2 separate regions of the Homo sapiens genome follow, and region 1 is linked to region 2. The links come from fine-mapping of genetic effects on gene expression. A gene starts in region 2. The other region holds a variant in brackets. All regions are shown on one strand. Distances are from middle to middle.

The links. PIP is the estimated chance that this variant, and not a neighbour inherited with it, causes the effect.
Region 1: its variant is the best candidate, but not a certain one, in a credible set for the expression of BMS1 in whole blood (TOPMed, PIP 0.65).

The regions. Positions count from the first base shown.
Region 1 is chr10:42,838,276-42,842,663 of GRCh38, reverse strand. No RefSeq gene overlaps it. Among named protein-coding and RNA genes, the nearest start is that of LINC02623, 31 kb to the left of the region's middle. The variant T/G (reference allele first, on the strand shown) is at 2,025.
Region 2 is chr10:42,780,339-42,784,726 of GRCh38, reverse strand. BMS1 (BMS1 ribosome biogenesis factor) reads right to left here and starts at 1,932. Exons shown (of 23, transcript NM_014753.4): 1 at 1,897-1,932; 2 at 157-365. The coding sequence starts at 332. RefSeq lists an enhancer at 1,752-2,101.

The DNA of each region.
Region 1 (4,388 bases), 58 kb before region 2:
ATGCAGTATTAAGTCATAATTGCATAAATTAATGGGAGCCCACTGTACTACTGTAGTAATTCTGTCGCCCCTCCTGCTACTATTGCAGTGAGCTCAGGTGTCGAGTGTCCACTTAAAATGCCATGTGACACTAGCCATCTCCGTGTGAGCACTTGTCTCTCCTGTAGATTGTGTATCACAGTGAAAAGTAATCTCTCGTGGTTCTCATGTATTTTTCATGTTTAGTGCAATACCATAAATCTGAAGAAGACATCGAGACGCGTACGAAGCGCCACTAGTGATTCTGGAAGTGCTGCCAAAAAGCAGAGAAAAGTCTTGACAGTACAAGAAAAAGGTGGATTGATTGATATGTACTGTAGACTGAGGTCTGCAGCTGCGGTTGCCCACCATTTCAAGATAAATTAATCCAGTGTAAGAACCATTGTAAAAAAAGAAAAGGAAATTCACAGTGTCATCACTGCAGCCATGCTAGCAGACATGAAACTTTGCTCTTTTTGCCAAATACCTTTTTGTCTAGTCTTGAAAATGTAGCTTTTGGCTGAATGTAGTGGCTCATGCCTTTAATCCCAGCACTTTGGGAGACCGAGGCAGGAGAATCACTTGAGCCCAGGAGGTGGAGGCTGAAGTAAGCCTAAGATCACACAACTGCACTCCAGCCTGGAAGCGAGGCTCTGTAGGGGGGTGGGGGGGAAAGAAGAAGAAGAAAGAAGGAAGGAAGGAAGGACAGAGAAATAGAGAAAATGCAGCTTTTATGTGGGTGCAGGATATCTATAAGAAAAGCATATCTATAGATTCTAATATGATTCAAGAAAAACTGATATCATTATACAACAACTTAAAACGAAAGACTGGTGGAGGATGGTGACTTAAAATTATGAGATCTACAAATTTGGAGAGGCTAAAGTACAGTGGCACAATCATGACTAACTGCAGCCTCAACCTCCCAGGCTCAAGCAATCCCCCACCTCAGCCTCCCAAGTAGCTGGAACTACAGGTGTGTGCCACCATGCCTGGCTAATTTTCAAACTTGTTTTTGTAGAGACAGGGGTCCCACTATCTTGCCCAGCTGGTCTCGAACTCTTGAGCTCAAGCAATCCTCCCACCTCGACCTTCTAAAGTGCTGAGATTACAGGCATGAGCCACTGTGCCAGGCCAAGAGCCTTATTTTCTTTCTTTCTTTCTTTCTTTCTTTCTTTCTTTCTTTCTTTCTTTCTTTCTTTCTTTCTTTCTTTCTTTCTCTTTCTTTCTTTCTTCTTTCTTTCTTTCTTTCTCTCTTTTTTTTTTTTTTGTCTGACAGAGTCTAGCTCTATCATCCAGGCTGGAGTGCAGTGGTGCAATCTCAGTTCACTGCAACCTCTGCCTCGCAGGTTCAAGCAATTCTCCTGCCTCAGCCACCCGTTTAGCTGGGAAGACAGGCACATGCCACTACACCTGGCTAATTTTTGTATTTTTTTCTAGGTAGAGATGGGGTTTCACCATGTTGGCCAGGCTGGGCTCGAACTCCTGGTCTCAAGTGATCCACCCAACTCAGCCTCCCAAAGTGCTGGGATTACAGGCATGAGCCACTGGGCCAGCCCAAAAGCGTTATTTCTTAGAAAGGTTGCAGCCTGCAGCCTGGCTGTCTTGACAGGCTGGGAAGTCTAGCCTCCAGCAAAGACCAAAAGTAGGCACTTCCAGGGACAGAAAGGTGAGACAGGAAGTTATGCTGAAAGGGTTGGCTAAATGTACATATTCAACAGGTTATAGAAGGCTCTATGAATATTCATGAAGGGGGTGAGACACACCTATTTCACACATTACAGACGTCCCATGTTCATTTCAGAGTGGAGGCAACATTTAAATGCATTAAAATTGGGCCCTAAATGTCAAAAGGTGAAGCAGAAGGTTCGAAGGCTCTCAGTGCCCAGCCTTCCTACTGGAGAAAACTGTGTCCAGATTTACAATAGGGCCAATCAAGGAAATCATGAAAGAGAGTGTGCCTGTGGCAAAAAAGGTGGGGAATGTAGGCTTTCAGGATATGGATC[T/G]TGGAGAAATTCAAGAGTGAATAGACATCACACCAGAGGAATTAACAGAAGACCACTTGATGGAGATGAGTGCTTTCGAATCAGTGCCAGATGATGAAGAAGTGGATGTAGACGCAGTACCAGAAAATAAGTTGACATTCGACAATCTGGCAGAGGGGTTCCGATTATTCAAGACTGCTTGTGACTTCTTTTACCATATGGACCTTTCTATGGTACGGGCACCAAAACTAAAGCAAATGGTGGAAGGAGGATTGGTATCACAAAGAAACATATTTAGAGAAATGAAAAAGCAAAAATGTCAGACAGAAATAACGATGAATTTCTCAGCATGTGTGCGTCTCCTGCCTTCCTTCCCATCTCCCCCACCTTTTCTGCCTCTGCCATTCCTGAGATGGCAGGACCAACCTCTTCTCTTCTTCAGCCTACTCAATGTGAAGATGATATGGATGAAAACCTTTATGATGATCCACTTCCATTTAGTGATAGTGAATACATTCTCTTCCTTATGATTTTATTAGTACTTTTTCTTTTCTGTAGCTTACTTCATTGTAAGAATACAGTATACAATACAAATCACATACAAAATATGTGTTGAGTGTTTATGTTATTGGTAAGGCTTCTGGCCAACAGTAGGCTATTAACAAAAGTTGTGGTGAGTTGAAAGTTATATATGGATTTTTTTTTTTTTTTTGAGACGGAGTCTTACTCTGTCCCTCAGGCTGGAGTGCAGTGGTGAGATCTCAGCTCACTGCAACCTCCATCTCCTGGGTACAAGCAATTCTTCTGCCTCAGCCTCCTGAGTAGCTGGGATTACAGGTGCGCACCACCACGCCTGACTAATTTTTGTATTTTTAGTAGAGACGGGGTTTCACCATGTTGATCAGGCTGGTCTCAAACTCCCGAACTCATGATCTGCCCGCCTCAGCCTCCCAAAGTGCTGGGATTACAGGCGTGAGCCACCACACCCGGCCTATATGTGGATTTTTGACTGTGTGGGAAGGTCAGCACCCCATCCCCTTCATGGGAACTGTAGTCTCATTAAATCCTCACATGCTGCAAGATTGGTTTATTATCCCCATCTAAGAAACTTAAAACCCAAGAGATTTTGTACATTGCCCAGAGTCACATCACTGGTGAGTGGCAGAAACTGGAGCCCCCACCCAGACCATCCCTGACCTGAGCACAGTTTGCCAAGTGTGCCTGCAGCAGTCAGAGACACTGGGAGATGGTGACTGCCCTCCATATTGAGGACACTTATATATCTGGCTTCTGTGAAACAGCCTTGCTTAGCTCCACCGCTCAGTTTTGGTCAAATGAACCACAGCAGGATCATGTGGACTTCCTGAGCACTGGTTTGCATGTATGAGTTGGACTTGGTGATCTCTTTGAGGTATGTGGAGATACTAAGCTAGTGGAAAAAGTGCTGAACAGACTGGGACCAGTGGCTCACGCCTGTAATCCCAGCCCTTTGGGAGGCCAAGGCAGGAGGATCTCTTGAGGCCAGCCTGGGCAACAAAATGAGACCTTGTCTCTACAAAAAAAAATGAAAATTTTTTAAAATGCTGAACAAAAACCCACCTGTGTTCAACCTTGGCTCCTCCCTGGATAATGCACCCACTCCCAAGTGTAGGTGTTGGTAACTCTTGGGAGTACATCTTAAGCCCAGGTAGCACATCAACCGGAGTTCCAGACAGTTCCCCAGCTGCCGCCTCAGATGTCTCTGCCTGGCTGTCCCACAGGTGCCCATCACTCCACCTGGCATCCCAGCCAGACACCTGGGGGCCCTGGGGTACTCCCTGAAAACCCCTTGTTCCTCACAACCCCCAGACCTACTACCCCTCCAATGTTACCTCTCAGAGCTCTAGCACCCACCACTTCTCCCTCTCTGTGCCTCCTTCCCCTAAACTTCCTGCAAACTATCTCCACCCAGTAGCAAAGGGGCTTTTTGAAAAATGGAAATCTAACCACGCTGTCCCAGCTAAATGTTCTCCCAGGGCTTCCTGGTGTCTCGGGATGAAGATAGCCTCTTAAGGCGGCCTCATCCCCTGCCTCTCTATTTTCCTCTCCAGCTCCTAGGACTCTCTGCTGCTGTCCTGGCTCCAGCTACGCTGGCTTGCAGGCGTCATGCTGCCCTGTGTCACAGGCCTTTCCACATAACATTCCTGTGCTTGACACACTCTTCTGCTTCCCCAACTCCCAGCCTTTGCCAAGTTAACCAACTTCTAGTCATGGCTCAACCGTCACTTGCTTCCCTAAGGAAGCCTTCTCCAACTTCCTACACCATGTCTAGAGCTGTGCCGTCCTCTACGGGACCACTGCCACATGGGGCCATTGAGCCCTTGAAATGTGTAACTGGTGCCGAGA
Region 2 (4,388 bases):
AAAAGCTTCTCACGTTTTAGTGAAAGCCACACACCATGAATCTCCATGTCCTTTGGAGCTGGACTAGACTCGTGAATCCAAATGTCACCTGTGAGAGGCTCCTACTATTTAAAAAAAGAATCAATGGAAGAATGACCAGACCGTAGCCTAACATACCTGTGAAAGGATCGAGCCATCCGCACAGCAGACTGAACTGCAAAAGCTTTGGGATTTCTCTTCCGGGCATCTTCTTCGTCTCCTAGCTGGAGATCCTGCAGAAGCCGCTTCTTTTTCTTTGCAGCTTTGGGTCCACTGTTTTTCTTTCTGTGTTTCTTCTGGTCCTTAGCCTCCATAGTGGCTATTTACCAATAACAAGTAACTCTAACCTACAAGGAAGAAGGTTGGGGTAAGGAGATGGGAGAAGCATTTTACAATCCAGGCAATACCCAGGGAAAAACAGTAAATTTCATTTATTTCTTTATGAAGAGATGATGTATTTGTTCACTGAACAAGGGTAGAAACTGCTTAACCATCCCCAATTTCATTTCTCTCTGTTATGCTATAAATTAGATGAGTTACCTCTCTTAAGATTACATTTTATGGTTAAGTTACTTTTTATTCATCTTAAGTGTCAACATCAGCAGTATCTATTTCTGCAAGGATAGAAATATACTATATCTGTACTTTTCAGCCATTTAGCCATTAGCCACATGTGGTTACTTACAATATACTTAGGGAAACTGAAAAAATGAGTTTTTAATTAATTTCATTCTAACTCCAAATAGTCACATGTGGCTACCATACTGGACAGCTCAGACCCAGGTATCAACTGGACTGATGAAGTGGTTTCCTAACTTAAACTAAAACTTAAATTTTAATAAAAAAATGTGAAACGTTTTTATGAACCTCCAATATGATCGCAGTATTACTTTTAGTACCTGTTGACTCTGTAAAACTCCTAAATTACAACTTATCTACATACATTTGAAAAATAGAAATAGCTGTACGTGTGAGATAGGACTGGTTCTAGATGACACCTGGAGACCCCATGAACTTACAGAGACCCTTCCAGTGATTTCTGAGTTACCTGGGAATCTGTGGCTAATAAATTGGCAATCACTGAATTAGTGAGTTATTTTAGGAAATCGGGCTGCATAAAATCTGACAGCTTGATTAAAAAAAAAAAGCGGAGCAGGATGCCATTTCATTCAATTAAGGTACTGTATTCATTCCGTTGAATAAATATTTGTGTCTGTCTACGATGTGCTAGGCACTGTGCCAGTAAGTGGATACAGCTATTATCTGACTTGCAGAGGAAATCCAAACTATTATCTTCCGCGCCACGCAATAAGGGCGACATTGGAAGGCTGCACAGGGTGCTACTGGAGCACGGAGGTGAGTCAGAGGCTTCCCACAGACACACACCAGCGGAAACAAAGTCTTTATGTATTACCATAATGTCAAGAACACTGGCCAGGAGTTAGGAGAGCTGGGCGCTAGGAACGCTTTGAAACCGAATAGCTGTGTGATTTCAGAGATTATGTTTCTTCTCTGCTATATTTTAGTTCAGCACTTGTACTAATGTTTCTCTCCCTGTCTTTCTTCTTGGTGGGAAAAGCACAATTTGGGGTCAACAGATCCAGCTCAGGTCTAAGTCTCCTACCGGGACCACGTCGCCAGGAAACGACGTCGCCCAGCCACCTTCCCTCCCCGTCTGGGCTCTCTGCAGGGATTCATCACGTCACTCACCCAACTACCCCAGGACACCTCCGCCAGATGAGAAATATGCCGCTCCTCGGGAGCAAAGATGACCCGGAGGACCGGGGGAGGACCTTCCCACACGCACGACTCGCGATCTTCCCAGTGCCCCAGAACCAGGGACCCCACCGCCGCCTACCCCAACCCGCAGCACCGAACCTGCTCGCAGCCGCGACTCCTCAGGTCAGCATGGACACCGCCGGAAACGGAAATTCACAGTCGCGCTGACTCGCCGGAGGGAAACAAGAAGGCAGAAAAAAGAGACCGGCATGGGGACGGCTTTCAGGGGAGAGCCTGAAGAAAGAGGGCTGAACAGCTGAGTGCGGACGCAGGCGCCGTCCGCGCAGTGCGTTCCACCGGGTCCAGGTCCTTCCAGATTCCTCTCCACCCCGCCCTCGGAATCCGCGGCCTCAACTTCCGCGGTGGGACTCCGGAGCAGCGTGCGCCGCGCTCGCCTGAGTTCTCGCCGAAGGCCAGGGCGGCTCTGCGGCCTGGCGCCGGTTAGTTAGTGTGGTGCAAAAGCCGGAAGGAGACACATTTGGTCCTGGCCTCCCGGCAGTCACCGTGCCAAGGACGAATGGACTATCGCTTGATTTGGAGTACACTTCCTCCTCTTTAAAGATTACAGATGAGGGGGATCTCGCGTTCTGGGGTGCCCTAAAGCCCTCTTTTGGCAGGGCGCAGTGGCTCACGCCTGTAATCCCTACACTTTGGGAAGCCGAGGAGGGAGGATTGCTTGAGCCCAGGAATTCAAGACAAGCCTGGGCAACATAGGGAGCCTACCTCTCTCTCTTAAAAAAAAAAAAAAAAAAAATTAGCCGGCATCGTGCCGGGCGCCTGTGGTGCTTGTGGTCCCAGCTACTCTGGAGGCTGAGGTGGGAGGATCGCTTGATCCCAGGAGGCGGAGTCTGCAGTGAACTGAGATGAGCCACTGGACTTCAGCCTGGGCAACAGAGCAAGACACTGTCTCTAAGAAAAATAAATAACATAAGGCCCTCTTTTGCCAGGACCAACAAACCGTGAGGGCAGGGACAAACTGACCCAGCCTAAACTGCCTCGCCCTCCCTAAACCCGGGAAAGGGGCTTTACCTGAGTGAACGTAGCATCTTGCCGTTTTCTTACTGCACAGCTTTACCTTCCCAGGGATCCGCCCATTGCCACCTGAGGAAATGCCTTGGAGTCCATCTAATCCCCAGCCCAGCTACTTGGGAGCCTACAGAGCGTACATTGTCAGAGGATGCATCTTCCTTTAGTCTTGGAGGGTTTCTTTTCAATATGATCCCGCTGGTGCATTCAAGGCTCAATTCTACACCAAAAACTAGGCCCACTCCTGTCACGAGAACCCCAGGCGTCAGGTCTTCTCACAGGCACCTTGTTCTTGCCCTCAGCAGCCCCCAGGTATTCACTCTGCATATTCTAGATACTGGGTGCTGGACTTGGGAGGCTACCCACGTGGCACATGCTTCCCTTATCCCTGAAGAGCTTAGAGTGTTGTAACTTCTTCACACTACACCTCTTACTTCTTGAAGATTTCAGTATCCAGGTAGATAATCCTTCCAACATCCTTTTGGTCTCATGAAGCCCACTCCTGTCCTCTGCCCTACCTCAGCTTCCCCCTCCCTCCATGATCAGACCTTAGACCTTGTCAGGTCCAAGGACTGCAACCCCCACAGTATCCCACTCTGACCAGGTCTATCTATCCTCCTATCTGTCCAGGTCACTCCCTATACTGCCCTGAAACAAAACTCCTGCAACCTTACCAGCACCTCCAATCAAGATCTTACTACTTGTTCACTGTTTCTTCCTTTATGACCCTCTCTAGTGAGCCAGCTTAAACTCAATGGCCAACCATTCTCATTGATCCCTTGCACACCTCCTCAACTCATGCACCTCCCTGTCATCTCCTATCTGCTTGGTAAGATGGGAGCCCTGGATAAACCCAGCTCTCCATCTATTCCATGCCACGACGATGCAACTAAACATGGCTGGAGGAAAACAGGACCATGCCAGCCGTCCTCACTTTAATCATTCTTTGCCTGGTCTATTCAATCTCCCATTGTTCCAAGTGAGTATTTCGCACTTCCTCCTCTCTGTTCAATCCTTCCCACTGCCTCTCCCTTCCTTGCCTCCTGCTTTGCTAAGAGAATAGAAGTGGTAAAAGTCTTCCACAGACTCCCACGTCCACCTCCACCCATCCGCCTCTTATTGCCTCCCTGTGACTGTGGATGAACAACTGCTAGGTCCACCCAAAGAATCCTGCACTGGACTGCTGGATCCCATCATCTCTTACTGCTCCAGGGTGTCACTCCAGCCAGCCTATCCTCTCTGCAACATCAGCAATATTTTCCTTTCTACTGGACTCTTCTCATCGTCACATAACATGCAGCTATTTCTCTCATCTTCAAAACAAAGAAATTACTCGACCCTATTTCCTATACCAGGACCTGCACCTTTTCTATGTTCCCCTTTGCAGCAAAACTTCACAAAAGAACAGTCAATACATACTCTGGCCCCTCTCCTATTCACTTTGATTCACTTGTCTCACAGGACTCCACCTGCAGCCCTGGATGCTCTTTCTCAGCTGCTTTTGCTGGTTCCCCTGCTCTCACCTGTTTAAATTAGAGTGAGGCCATAGGTTTCGGGCTTCAGTT